Homo sapiens: one gene and its partner. The protein of the gene in region 1 interacts with the protein of each later gene in a pairwise test. Each region holds a gene or a part of one and is shown on either strand. Other genes may lie near its edges.

What was found.
Region 2: the proteins of SFRP1 (region 1) and FZD6 interact in binary tests that used the Homo sapiens proteins (3 or more experiments, as listed by UniProt).

What each region holds. Positions count from the first base shown.
Region 1 is NC_000008.11:41,306,437-41,314,248, forward strand, and holds the start of SFRP1 (secreted frizzled-related protein 1 precursor), read right to left. Parts: upstream 3,038-7,812; 5' UTR 2,724-3,037; coding exon 2,180-2,723; intron 1-2,179. UniProt on the Homo sapiens protein: Soluble frizzled-related proteins (sFRPS) function as modulators of Wnt signaling through direct interaction with Wnts. They have a role in regulating cell growth and differentiation in specific cell types. SFRP1 decreases intracellular beta-catenin levels.
Region 2 is NC_000008.11:103,301,891-103,308,927, reverse strand, and holds part of FZD6 (frizzled-6 isoform a precursor), read right to left. Parts: intron 1-7,037. UniProt on the Homo sapiens protein: Receptor for Wnt proteins.

The sequences.
Region 1 (7,812 bases):
AGGATCAGTAGTCTGGTTTGTCTTGACCTGCCCTCTACACACCTACACACACACACACACACACACACACGCCCCACCCTCCCCTCCACAGGGACCTCGCAGGAAATCACGTGGGGCTCCCTTACACCAGGGATTGCAGTCCTGGGGAGGGTGGTGTGCCATCTCAGGGCAGAGCCCCCCACCAAAACCACTGAGGGGAAAACCAGTCCCAAGCCCCACTCCCGACCGGCCCTCTCCCCACTTTTCTCTTTGCTCCTCAAAGACCTGTCTTGGGAGGGTGACTACCTGAGCGCTGCTGGGAGGAGTGGAGGTGAGTGAGGACGGTTCCAAGCCAGGCTGAGAAGGGCGCCGACCAGTGGAACTGCAGCCAAGGGGCAAAAGGTGTCCGGAAGACAGCGATTATGGGGTTTCCCCATCCCATCACAGCCTTTTGGGGGCTGGGGTGAGGGATTCTTTCCTCTCTTCTTCAGGCAACCCGTCCAATCCCCCCATGTTCCCTGTGGACTGCAGCACCTTTTCCGCAGCCGAGCCCCCTAAGGTGTCCACTCATGTCTGCAGACGGTCCCAGAAAGAGACCATCGGAAGCCATTGGGAATGGACTCCAGGTCAGGGCTGGGCACAGCCTCACAGGGCAGGGCTGGGCTAATCCCCGCTGGCTGAGGAAGGGGAGAAGGAAATTCCCGCAGGCTGCAGGGGATGGGTGCAAGCCAACAGAACACAAGGCGCTTTGTTTGCTCCAGGTAACTGCTCAGTTCTCGCTCACAAAGTGCAGATGCATCCGCTACCCTCACTCCACTCCCAACACCAGAGTTGACTCTGAGAGCAGCGGTGCCCAGACCTGGCCACTGCGGGCAATCAGTGCCGTTCCCATCCAGCCATCCAACGACAGTCACTGTGGACCCATCTCCACCCTCCCTAGAATAAGCAAAAGCATCTAAAATTTGGGGTATCCCTTTCCCCCACCTGCCCAAATCCTCACTCTGAGGAGCCAGGTGACTGCACTCCCCTCTTTTAGCATCAATAACAGAGGTTAAAGACACTTTAAGGTGAGCTAAGTGTAGGCAGTCTTTCTCCCCCACCCTAAAGGCCCTCCTCAAAAAGCCCTCAGGAAGCCTGCGTCTGTGCTAAGCGCAGCTGGGGTACAGCTCCCCAATCCCTGACCCTCTCCACACCTCAGAGCCTAAACTTCGCTTCTAAAGAATTCTGGGTTGAATTTACTTCTATAGAAGTCAGGTCTGTGATGTGTATATTTTATCTTTATATCTATTTCATTTTATTTGACTTCCCAGGATTTTTTTTTCTTCCCCCTCAAGAATTGCTCTTTAAACATAAGGGGGTTTTGAGAGGAACCTCGGGCCGGTCCCTCAGGCTGTTAGGAAAGTCTGCATTTTGCAGAGCTGCTCTCCCCGGGAGGAGATGAACAATGAGCTAATTACATTTTTATCTTTCTAATGAGCTGAGGATTTGTGTAAATGAGAAAAGCAGGGGGTACGCTAGAGGGAGGGAGAAAAGACTTTCCACCCCCAGCCCTCCGAGGGCAGAGCTGGTACCTGGAAGGGGTGGAGAAACAGAAGTCCCCACGGTTCCTAAACTTTCTCAGCCAGTTTTGCAGCAATCCCAAGGCTACTTGACTGAATGACCAGTGAAGGAAAGGGCTTGGTTTTATTTTTTAAATCTTTGTCGAACCTATGAAAATAAACAAAAGCTGCTCCAAGCATTCTCTCGGCCTTTCTGAACTTTCTACGCTTTGGGTTTTTGTTTTTTCCTCCCGTCTCAGAGGTTAAAAACTTCGATAGGGACTCGGAGTCCTCCTAGAGGAGAGGGAAGCTCCCCTGTTATTTAAAGCGCAAGGCTTTGTTTCAGGTATGGGAAAGGCGAAGTTGGATCCCAGGAAGAGCGGCTCCGGGGACCACAGCGAGTCCCTGCGAGGCCAAGGCGCAGAGCTGCCGCTCCCGGGCCAGCCCCGCCGTGCACCTGGGTCGCGAGGGGCGCTGAGCGATACCTGGGACAGACCAGACGCGCTTAGGAATCACGTGCACAGCATGCGAGCAACCTCGGGCCCTCAGTCCCCAGCACCGGGACCCAGCGGCGGGCGGGCGTAGGGTGGCGCGGGTTCTCCTGCAGCTCCGGCCGGGGGATGGAGGGGGCGGCTCGCGCACGTGGGAGGAGGCAGCCTTACCTTGGGGCTTGGAGGCTTCGGTGGCATTGGGCGGCGTCATGGCGATGCAGACGTCCCCCTCGGGGAACTTGTCACACTTAAGCATCTCGGGCCAGTAGAAGCCGAAGAACTGCATGACCGGCTCGCACGAGTCGCGCACGGCCTCGCAGAGCCAGCGACACGGGTAGATGGGCCGGTCCAGGCAGACGGGCGCGAAGAGCGAGCAGAGGAAGACCTGGGTGCCGGCGTGGCAGTTCTTGTTGAGCAGGGGCACCCAGCTGCTGGCCTGCTGCTTCACCTCCGCCATGGTCTCGTGCTCCAGCAGGTTGGGCAGCACCATCTTCTTGTAGCCCACGTTGTGGCACAGCCGCAGGTCCGCGGGGATGTCCACGCACTGAGGTGGCTTGGTGTAGAAGCGCCCGCTCTGGTACGGGCCGATGTCCGACTGGAAGCTCACGTAGTCGTACTCGCTGGCCGAGCCCACGGCCAGAAGCGCCGCGCCCAGCGCCAGCAGCACGCCCAGGGCTGCCCCGCGGCGGCCCCCCTCGCTGCGCCCGATGCCCATGCCGGCTCTGCGCCCTGTTCTCCGCGACGTCGGGGCTGCCTCCGCCGCCTCCCCGCGCGCGTCCTGCCGCAAACTTCCAGGGACCTCCGGGGACAAAAGGCGCAGTCCCCAGCGTTGCCCGGCTCCGCGGCCGCAAGCTGCTGCCCGGTCCCCCCGGCCAGTGGCGGCCCTCGGCCTGCGGTCGGAGGCGGCGCGGGCGGGGAGGCGGCGCTGCGGGCTGGGTGCGCCCCGGCTCCCGGAGGTGCGGCGAGCAGGAAGGCGCGGGGCGGCGGGCGCGCGGCACTGACTCCGGAGGCTGCAGGGCTGGAGTGCGCGGGGCTCCTACGGCCGAGCCCTCGGAGCCGCCCCGCGCAGCCAATCAGCTCCCGGCGGGGCGAGCCGCACTCGTTACCACGTCCGTCACCGGCGCGGGAGCCAATCGCCTCCCTCGCGAGCGGGTTCGGTTTACTAGAACCAGACGCGGCTCAACACCCCTTAAAAAACAAAACCAAAAATACATAAATAAAAGGGGGAGGAGGAAAGAGACAAGGGGAGAAAAAGAAGGGGAATGGATCACGGCGTGGGGTGGAGAGAGACCAGGGCGGACGCTGTAATTAACTCGCATTGGCTTGCAGAGAAGCGGGGAGCCTGGATCATACTTGCAAACCCATGAAATTATGAAGACTTTTTTTTTTTGAGACAGTTTCGCTCTTGTTGCCTAAGCTGGAGTGCAATGGCGCTATCTCCGCTGACTGCAACCTCCGCCTCCCGGGTTCAAGCGATTCTCCTGCCTCAGCCTCCCGAGTAGCTGGGATTACAGCCGCGTGCCACCATGCCCCCGCTAATTTTTTGTATTTTTAGTAGAGACGGGGTTTCACCATGTTAGCCAGGCTGGTCTCGAACTCCTGACCTCAGGTGATGCTCCTGCCTTGGCCTCCCAAACTTTTTTTTTCTTTTTCTTTACACTGCTTCCTAATTTCAACCAACAGCCCTTTAGACTAGCGGCTCCTCTCCTCGGTTCTCTAGCTGCGGTGCAGACAGGTGGTTTCCCAACTAACAGGGGTTCAGGAAGGCTGAAGCGAGGGAGGTCTGCTTGTAAATACCCAGTGGGCCTGGCTGGGCTCCCTGGAAGGCGAGGCGAAGGCGCAGTTGGAGCTGTTTGCTGTGAGCAGCACCTCTCCAGGTGGGGCCGCCCATGGTGGCCCTCAACACTGGGGCAGTGGGTGGACTTTGCCCGGTGTGGCGGCAGGAAGAGCTGCTAGCAACGGTATTAGCTCTGGGAGGACACTTTTTTAAATATATAATATATATTTAAATAGAAAAACCCTACTCAAGTCCTAGCCCGGGCGACAGCACATCTGTGTGTTTGTGGTGTGGAAAGCCAAAACATTAAAAACACATGTGCACTTATCAGCGTGGCTGGTGTAAATACCAAGTCCATCACTCAGGCACACATGCTAAGGTTAGACCCAGTCCAGGAACTTCAAGTTAAAATCAAGGGTCCCCACTAGGGCAGACGCCAAGAGGACGGTATCAGCACAACAGCTCGGCCCCCAGGAACAGAAGTCTCTCTGCCACCTTCTACCTCGAATTCCTGAGAATTCTTCGTAGGTTTCAAACATTCCCCTGAGAGGGAGGGTTAAGCTCTGGAGAGCTGGGAGTGAGACCCGGACTATCCCGGGACAGAAGACCACAGCAAATAGTTCATGAAGTTCCTGGAGTCTCCATATCTTCTGTCCCTAAGTGCGGGTGGAGAGAGGCTGATATATTCATAGCCCAGTCTGAGCGCACACCCCATGTGGCAAAGGGGTCACAGATCTTAGCGCTCCACAGAGACACTATAGGGCGCGCTGCCTTGCCCGCCAGCTTGTTTGTAAAGCTCTAGGGAGCTTGCTTTGGACTCTGCAAACCTAATTTCTTGATGGACAGATTCCAAGTGAAATGACTAGAGTTTGTGAAGAAGCAGGGCTGTTTTCTTAAAGCATTCGTGCCCGTACAGACACGGTGATTCCACGGTGCACACAGGAGGCTTCTGCAGATGGATGACTTCTCTGTCATTTCGTGGCCAATGGAAGATGCCTTGACACTCAAAAGGTGACATGGAGGCTGGAAGGAAAACACAGAGAAGAGAGAGCAAGATCGGGATGGCCAAGGGTTAATCCCAAGACAATTGGTGAGGCCGGCCTGTGGAGCTGAGGAAGACATTCCTCACAGAGAATAAGACCGCAGGAGACCCGGCAACTGTGTCTCAATTCAAGGGGCATTTAGAGAAAAATGCTGTTTGGTAGGGGGTCTTTTTGTCTCCTAGGGCCAGGCCCTCCACCTCAAGCCAAATGCGTCTGTTTGCTCACTGCAAAGATGGATGTTTGCAGATAACATCCTCTCACCTCTGAACCCAGGCTTAGCTGACCGCTCACTCACGTTTTCAGTTTTCCCGAATGGCAGGAGGACTTGTGTCTGTCCACGGTTAAATGCTGGAAATTCGTCCAGGTGACTGCCCTGGAAGTCCCAAGTCAGGAGTAAATCTCACAAATCCATTCAGGGGAAGACCTCGCCTATGTCTGGTCACTCCGAGTAGACTTTGATCACCTCCAGTCACCACCTCCCCCACTCACCCCTAGTGGTCCTACTGCTTTACTGACCCCTGCTGGGAACACAGTTGTCTCTCCGTGGAACAGGGAGTGATGGGAGAAGACCCCAAATCCTAAATCCAGTGCACTCCTGACTCCTCCCAGACCCAGCTGGAAAGGAAGGACCCTAAGACCTCAGTCCCACCGAGAGACTTTAATCCATTCCTGGGATGTGGGAGAGGGACCACCCGCCCCCCGTCCTCTCGGGAAATTCACATGCTGCATAACAGCACCAGGCAGAACAGCCTGAAGACTTTGTATTGCAGAGGTACATACAGTACTTTTGTCCTTTTACTTATTGTCAACTCTTTGCACTTCAAAATCCAGTCCCCCTTTTCCTAATGGCAAGTGTGTGTGTGTTTGTGTGTGCACGCACTCCTGTGTGTACAGCAGAAGGTTCTAGAACAAAGGCCCTTTAAACATGCAACTGACATGACAGAGCTCCCAGATATGAGGGTTCCTGAGTATGAGAACTGTGGGCCAGGAGACATATCCTCCCTCCTTTTTGAATGGCTTAAATAAACAGAGGCAAAATGCAGCTTTAACTTATGTTTCTCATTTCCCAGAAGTTCTGCTTTTCCCACACTGCTAGATGCCCATGCATGAAGCCTGAAAGTTCGTCCTCTGTTGCTTCAAAACACCAGCTTCAGGAGGCATTCTCAGTTCTTCAGCCTCCACAGAGGGTCACAGAGGGCCCCCCCAGGTGCCTCCCAGGTGGCCTCTTCCCACACGCAGAGCTTTTTCCTGGCTTCTCCTGGAAAAACTGGGAGGGGAGCCTTCCCAGCCACAGCTCCCATTGTGTTCCACTATCATATCATCAGTGATGTCTGCCATCCTCTCCAAAGATACATTCAGCTCGCTCTCCCTCAGCCAGCAGCACTAGGGAGGGAGCTCCCGCCTGAAGCTGGGTATCTGTGGGTCAGGGGCAATGCCAAGGAAAGCATGCTGGCCCACAGTCAGTGGACACAGGCTACAGCCTCAGCTCTGCTCCTAACTGGCTGGGCGACTCATGGGAATCGCACTTCCTCTCTCTGGTCTTAGTGTTCTCATCTGTGAAACAGAGCTATTAATGCCTGCCCGGCTGCCCTGCTAGCTCAGAAGTGTGAATTCTCAGCATGTAGGGTCACTCGAGGCACATCCTTAGACTTCCAGGCAAGTCTGAAGGGGCCAAAGTGGTATTCGTTGTCAGATGCCTTGAAACCTGGTCATGCTCTTACTTGGACAAGCTTCTTCTGCATTCTGCCTCTGTAGATGTGTAATCCTGATCCTTTCTAACTCTTTAAAGAACTGGCCTGACCTGCTAACTGAAGTCTGGGAATGTCTGGGAAGCATCTTAAAAATTTGGAGTTGAAGGCAAATTCCAGCCCCATCTCTTCATCTCTTCTTAGAGTAAGCACCCCTACCTCTTCATCTTTTTTTTTTTTTTTTTTTTGATACAGAGTCTCACTCTGTTCCCCAGGCTGGAGCGCAGTGGCAGGACCTTGGCTCACTGCAGCCTTGACCTCCTGGGCTCAGGCAATCCTGCCACCTCAGCCTCCCAAGTAGCTGGGACTCCAGATGCAGGCCACCACACCTAGCTTTTTTTTTTTTTTTTTTTTTTTTTTTTTTTTGAGCAATGGGATTTTGCTATGTTATCCAGGCTGGTTTTGAACTCCTAGCCCCAAGCAATCCTCCTGTCTCAGCCTCCCAGAGTGTTGGGATTACAGGGGTGAGCCACCGCACCCAGTCCTCTGCACCATTCTTGACAGAAGCTAACGGAGCATCCCTTTTATTTGTTTGGGATATAGTCACCAAGTTCAGACAATCCACTAGAATGTTCTTCCTTCCTTGAAGGGAAACTCTGCTCCCTGTAATTTCTTACTAGGCCATCCTAGGATCAGTTCCTATCGTAAGCAGCCAGGAAGACACCCTCAGCGGAGCCCCAAACTGGGAGGCCAAGGTCACCGTCCCCGCCCCTCCACTCAGACAGTCACACCTGCCCACTCTCCAGGCGAGGTTCTGTCAAACTGGGCTTGACAATTTTTGTTCATTTATTACTACATTAATTAATTTATAATTTATATTATAAATATATTCATGCCTATAAATATAATTTTTATATAAATAAATGAAGACTTGTATACCACCTCTTAGAAAGAAGAGAACTAAAAATAAAAGGCATATTTTAAGATGACTTTTTAAATAGAAATAAAAATATCAAATGGACTATTTCTCTGATTAAAATTCTCACACACTCTTTGTCCACAGGAAAAAGCCCAACCTCCAGGATAGTATCAAGACTCAGCCCTGACCCCCATGACCTCTCCAGCTTCACCTCCCCAGCACCCCCCACCAGCCTAGTTTCCAGTCTCCAGAAGTACTTGCACTTTCCCACCCAATGGCTTCTCGCTTGCCTCTCATCCTGGGCTCATGCTGTGTGCACATGCTGTTTTCTCTATCTGTAATGCCTTTCACTACTTTTGTACAAACTACTACTCATA
Region 2 (7,037 bases), about 62 Mb from region 1:
GATGCCATAGTAAGATACAAGTGCAGATGAGGAGATTAACCCTACATAATTAAAAGGGACCTTGGCTTTTGCTACTAGTTCCTCATAGAAACTAAACAGGAGAGAACATCTAGAGATCATCAGGTCAAGTTACCTCTCATGAATTGAGTGTTACTGAACTCACCTACTCATGATGTCAGGGACCAACTGCATTCCATCTTCAAGTGGCTGGATAGATCTCAAAGATACGGGAAAGTAGCATATTGCTTGCATTCTCAGAATGCCTGCTTCTGCCATATTATAATTCTTTCCTTAAAACACACCTACGTCTTCAAGCAGAGTTCCCTCTCACCAAATGACTCATGAAGAAACAATTACAGCCTGGCTTACAATAGCTGGCCCCAGCTATTGTAAGTGAGCTACTATAGGATTATAACTCCATTCAGAGGTGGCCCTAGCAGGCAGAACTTCAATCACTGTCTATGTTATCAGTAGAAAGATGGTCTCAGGTAAGAAGTTATATTGATTCATGGGCTATAGCTAATGGTACAACAAGATAGGGACTTGCAAGCAACAAGAGCTTGGAAGAGTTCTACAGAACTGGTATTAGGAGTCCGGAAAAGCAGTGTGTGACTGGACTTCTCCAAAATGGGCCTATAATCTCAAAAAAAATTTTTTTTGCATGTGAATGCAAACCCAAAGGCCCCAAGACAGAGGAGGCTCTTAAATGTGTAGACTAAATAATCTACTCTGTGGATGTCAATCAGCCTTTTCTCTAGTTGCACCAGTATAGGCTTAACAGGCTCAGGAACAAAACGGCCATGGTGGCAGAAGAGTGCCCAGATCCAATAGCATAGACTTTTCCTTCTTGGGGTGATCTGGCTACTGCTGAGTAGTTCATTTGCCAGAAGCAGAGCAGTAACCAACCTTAAGCCCTCAATATGGTATCATGTTCCAGCAGGATCAACCAACTATCTAGTGTCAGGTTAAGAAGTATCCTGGATAATTTCCATCCAAGAGTTGTCCTCACTGAAATCCCTTGCTTATAAGTTCCCAAGTAGACCATACCTGTGCCAGCATCTTAGCTGTAGCATGTTTCCTTACAGCCTGAGCTTGAATTCTAGCCCACCTGGCGATTCTATGAGCTACCTGCTACTCTTATAATCAATTCCTTTTCTGCTTAACCAGTCTGGGTACCCTAAGATGGAAAGGACATGAAAAAAAAAAAACACACCTTAGAACACAAGGAAAGGAGGCTCCTTCTTCAGAGTTAAAAGAATTAAGAGCTATATAAAATCAATGAAAGAATGACCAGGGCAAAATAATATTAAAATAAGTCTAAAAGTATTTTTTGGAAATGAGTAAACAAGGGCAAAAAAGTAATCTAAGAAAATAAGCCTTTGTCAAAAAGTAGAACTGAAAGTACAATGACAAAAACAGATAGGTTGTTTTACATTCCCTCCACTAGAATATAAATTCTGTGAGGGCATATAGGTCTGTTTGTGCATTACTGTATGTCAAGTATCTGAACAGTGCTTCAAATATTTATTTATTTAGGCATTCAAATATTTGTTGAATGAATAAACACCAGCTAGTCTCAGTGAAATATACAGGGAAAGGACCAGCTAGCTCCTGATGCTATAATAATATGATAATGAAAGGAACCATAATATGGGCCTGGGGTTGGTGGCACTGTAAGATCCTGAAGGGAAAGTCTGGGCTAGAATTTTAATTGAGAGGGGTCAAAAGAAGGAACTATTTGGTTTCTTAAAAATATATAAAGCATAACCTAAGCAGAGTGGTCCTGTGGCAGTATCTTGGCAGTGCCTTGCTTCCCTGAGTACTGAAAATATGGGATACATAAACGTTTGTCACTTTTCTGAAGCATGAATCAGAATCCCACTGGTACATGGAAGCAAGCCACATCACCAGTGAACAAGACCAAGTGACTCCAAAGCCTCTGATCCTAAGCTCAGGATTTGTGCTTTCTACTCATGGTGACATACACAGTAACTCCCATGCAGTGAGAAAAGCTATATTTCTTGCTCTAAATTGGCACCAAAAACAAAGTCGATTTACAGTGATGGTGATTAAAACTGAGTGAAGGAAATTTAAAATGTCATTAAAAAAAGTGATGAACCTGGGGCCAGGCGCGGTGGCTCACGCCTGTAATCCCAGCACTTTGGGAGGCCGAGGTGGGTGGATCTTGAGGTCAGGAGATTGAGACCATCCTGGCTAACATGGTTAAACCCCGTCTCTACTAAAAAAATACAAAAAAATTAGCCGGGCTTGGTGACGGGCGCCTGTAGTCCCAGCTACTCGGGAGGCTGAGGCAGGAGAATGGCGTGAACCCAGGAGAGGGAGCTTGCAGTGAGCGAGATGGCGCCACTGCACTCCAGCCTGGGTGACAGAACGAGACTCTGTCTCAAAAAAAAAAAAAAAAAAAAAAAAAAAGTGATGAACCTTAGCAAAACAACAGGCTCACTAAAGTCTAAAGGGGCCCTTAAATGTTTTCAGTTAGACTTCACTGGGCAAATACTGTTTAAGTGGTTACAAAAGTCTTGAGTAAATTCTTTGAGAATGTCAATGGACTACTGTATAGGAAAGTGGTGCAAATTTTGCTACCTATTTTCACGAATGTGATCAATCTCAGGCAAGTCAGCTTCTTTAAAAAATGTAAAGTGGAGCCTGGAATACAAGAGAACAAAAAGCAGGAATTTACATTATTTCCATAATGGAAAACTTGTTATTTTTAAACTATTTCTTGTGAGGGACCATTAGAAAATTTAAATCATTTCTCCAGAAGAGAGTACCTTTGGAAATTAGACAAATGTACATATTAACTGATTGATACTACAAAGGAATGTGTCTAGAATAAATTACTTTTTTAATGTAAACCTTAGAACTTGAAAAACTGTAATTCTGGGAGAGCTACATATTCAGGTACATATTCAATAAATATGAATGAACACATGACAAATATATAACCTAGAGTAATAAAGCTTCATTATTTACATGCCACATTCTTGGGGAAAGGAAATAATCACAACAGTCTTCCCATGGAATACTAAGGAATGGACTAGGAACCTTGTGCTTATCAGCAGAGCCTCCCAGGAGAAATATCCTTTCTCTTCACATACAGGCCTGCCCTTATTCTGCAGTTTCAAAAGAAGGAGTCAAGGGACTTTCCCTGCTACTGCAATGCAACATCACGAAGGAAGGTTTCTACCTTTAAAACACAACAGTAGTCATTATACACGCAACTGGCTTGGAACACTTCTCACTATTTATTTCATTTTATATGATTAATGTCTTACTTTCAGAATAGCTACAGTTATTTTCAGATAGTCTTTCCTGAAAAACAAACAGGTTAATCTCACTAAACATTTTCTTTATTTGTGTATGGACATACAAGGGTAGAGAATATGGAAGAAAGGTGAAAGCAGGAAGGGACTGGACTCTTCTAAAAGCAGGAAAATAAAAATGCTTAAAAGCCACTATACAACAGAAATAGATATTTTCCTTAAAAGTCTGTTTATCCAGTTTTTCTCCATTTATTTTTAACTGAATAGAGACATTCTAACAGCACATATTAACAGGTGGAAAGGAAAGTTGTTTTTTTTCTTTTGGCCCACTTCCCTTTAGACTGTTTAAAAAGGGAATGACCACTTGCTGCTCCAAACACAATACGTGACCTGGCTTTTGCCTAGACCTCAATGAAGGCAATTGAAAAAGAAAAATACAACATTCCTGTTTCCATTTTCCCTAGATCAGTCTCAGCTCTTTCTGGATGAAATCAGTCTCTCAAGGGACCTCAATCTCACAATGCTCTAGATATGAAACAAAAGGAACACAATGGAAAACCAGTAGCCATTTGTTTTTCCACTTGGGAGAGTTAGACTGTACATCCTTTTCATTACAAAGCCCCGTTACTATGCAGAATTGTAAATTAACTCTTTGTAATACAAATGATTTCAGGTTCACATAATAAAATTAGGAAAAAACTGAAGTCCCTCATTTTAAGCAATCTCTGAAACAAAACTAAAGAACCAAGATGTCCCAGTCAGATCCTTTTGGTTTGTGATAAATTTTACTTTAAAAAATTTATGTGGAAAGTAAGTAACAAATAACTCAGTTAATGTATTAACATAAGAATGCACAATAATGTCCACTTATTTCATTCTATACTATCCTTAAAACATTTTCAAGTACTTTAAACCAAGGTTCAGCAAACTGTAGCCCCTGGGCCAAATATAGCCCACTGCCTGTTTTTGTAAATAAAGTTTTATTGAGACACAGCCACACTCATTTGTTGGCATATTGTCTGACTGCTTCTGTGCTACAATTTCAAAGTTGAATAGCTGTGACGGAGACTGTATGGTCTGGAAAGTCAAAATAATTTGGTCTTTTACAGTAAAAATTTGCAATCCAAACTTCTAAACCAGTGGGTCTTGAACTTTAACACTCAAAAGAAACACCTGGGCAGCTTGTGAAACCACAGCTGCGCTCCATCTTCAGAGATCATGATTCAGTAAGTTGGGATAGGAGTCTGTGAGCTTGCATTTCCAACAAGCTCACAAGCTGCTGGTCTATGAACTAAAGTTTAAGAACCACTGCTCTAAACCATCTCATATAATCACAGATTAAAAATGACCATAAATGCTTAAATTCTATAAAACAGGCTAGCTGTTACAAAATGAAAACTAGGAACAAAAAAGGAGTGAGATAGATCTTTTGACTTATACGGAATTCTCAGTGACTAAGAGAGTACAATTCATTGCCATAGCCATCAGGCAATTTTTCAGCCCCTCATCCTAACACTAATTCACAGTGAATCCTGGAAATTCAATAGGAACCAGCAGAAACTAAAGGTAATCGGGTTGGAGGTGTAAAACCCAATCTGATCTTTAGAGAAGCTATAAAACACATTTTTAGTAAAAGCCAAGTTACAAGCAGCTATAATTTAGTACTCAACTGGAATATACACTTAAGGACTAAAGTACAATGTTTGAAAAAAAAAAAACTGACTCATATAGCTTATAATCCAACGGTCCGATCAAAAGTTGAATTCCTTTACTTCATATAAATAACTAGAAATGGTTAAAAATCAAATTCTTTAAGCAAATTCTAATGAATATGTGTAGAGCTAATGTGGGAAACAAAATAGAGGATGTCAACTGATATATTTCATTACAGCTAGGCTCAGACAGAATGAAAAAGAATGATATGTAAACCACCTAAAAATATTAGTATGTCTTTGACTTGGACACTGTAGATGATAGAAGTGGAATGTAAAGATTTGGAGGGAAAATTCCCTTTGCTACCTTATTGGGACATAAAATCCTACCTTTTTCTTTATTTAGCTTTTATGTAGCCTCTACCATGCTCAGAGGCATTGTACTTAGTATTAGGGATACAGATGAAAAAAAAACACCATCCCTACCTTCAACAAACTCTCAATCTAGAGACATGTAGATTCACTGTAAAATAGCATAAGAACAACTGTACATTATAAGTACTGTAAGGGTGTAGAGTGGGGTGATTAAATTTGCTCAGGAGAAAGGTGAAAGAAGGGTTCGCTAAAAACAGTTATTGCTTTAACTGAGAACTGAAGGAATTGAGCAGGTGAAGAAAGGTAGGTAGACAGACGGCTCACCAGAGGATAGAGTGTGTGTAAAGATACAGAGGTGATGGACAGTAATATGGATTTGAATTCTCCAAATAGGTCAGTTGGCTGAAGCAGAGTGTGCAATGTGGGAAGGTACAAGATGAGAGACTGGACAAGCAGCCAGGGTCCCACATGAAGGGCCTGGAGTGCTCTAGAACCAGGTCTTTTTTTCCCCAGCTTTAGGGAAAATGATGAAGGATTTTAACCCTAAAGTGGACTGCACAAATTTGAATTATAATAAAATCATTGTGGCACCACTAGAGAGACTGAAGATTAGGGAGTTAACTTTTGCTTTGTTTTTGTTGTTTTCATTTTGTTTTGTTGAGTTGAAGTCTCACTCTGTTGCCCAGACTGGAGTGCAGTGGAACGATCATAGCTCACTGCAGCCTCCAACTCTTGGGCTTAAGTGATCCTCCCACCTCAGCCTCCAGAGTAGATGGGACTACAGGTGTGCGCCACAGAGATTTTATTTTTGGTCTAACAAGACTTTGTATTCAAGGCACTTGTAAGAAGGAAAAAGAGAGACAGAGCTAAACAGAGGTAAAACAATCACCCAGTTTAATTTTTATCTAAATGAAGTTTGCAAATAAGTAGCAAAGTCTGAAATTTACACATTGCATTCTAAATCATAAGAAATATTATCTTGTTTATCCAATCAGGACAAGGGCCTAAAAAAAAACCAGTTAAAGATGACATTATGGTCCATGTAGACAGAGAAGACTATCAGATTAGAGTGCTCAAAGGGACAAATCGCAGCTTTTCTGGGTTTCAGTTTCTTCATCTGTATAATGAAGGGTTCGGGGGTTCTTTACCTGAGCTATATTTCAATATAATTTGTTTTCTTTGTAATCCTACACATTTTATTTATTTAAATATTAAAACTTCTCTTATCTTGAGAAGGGGTTAATGTCATAAAAAAGGTTAAGAAGCTCTATATGATCTTTAGGGTCACTTACAACTCTCAACTTATAGGATTTTGGACATTCAAATACAGGAACTAAAAGAGAATACTACTGTATATGGATAAATAGGAAAGGGGCAGTAGGAAAAACACAATAGTATACACTGAGAAATTACATATAGGGATTAAAAGTCTGAGCCAGGGTGACATTATTTTTGCCTTTTCATTTCTCTTTCCTTTCTTCTATAGACTTAGGTTAATGCTGGTATTGTGACTGCTTGATGGCTCTCTTCTTTTGTATCCTTAAATTTACTGAAGTATGATTTATAGCAAAAAAAAAAACTTCATTAGTAAAGGCTATGAGAAAGGTTAGTTATAAGTGGAAAATTATATAATGAAGAGATTGGTAGTATTAGCAATCATATAAAAGAGGTAAGAACAAAAAGCCTTCTTGATAATATCCAGGCACAAAACTACTTGGGAAAGAAG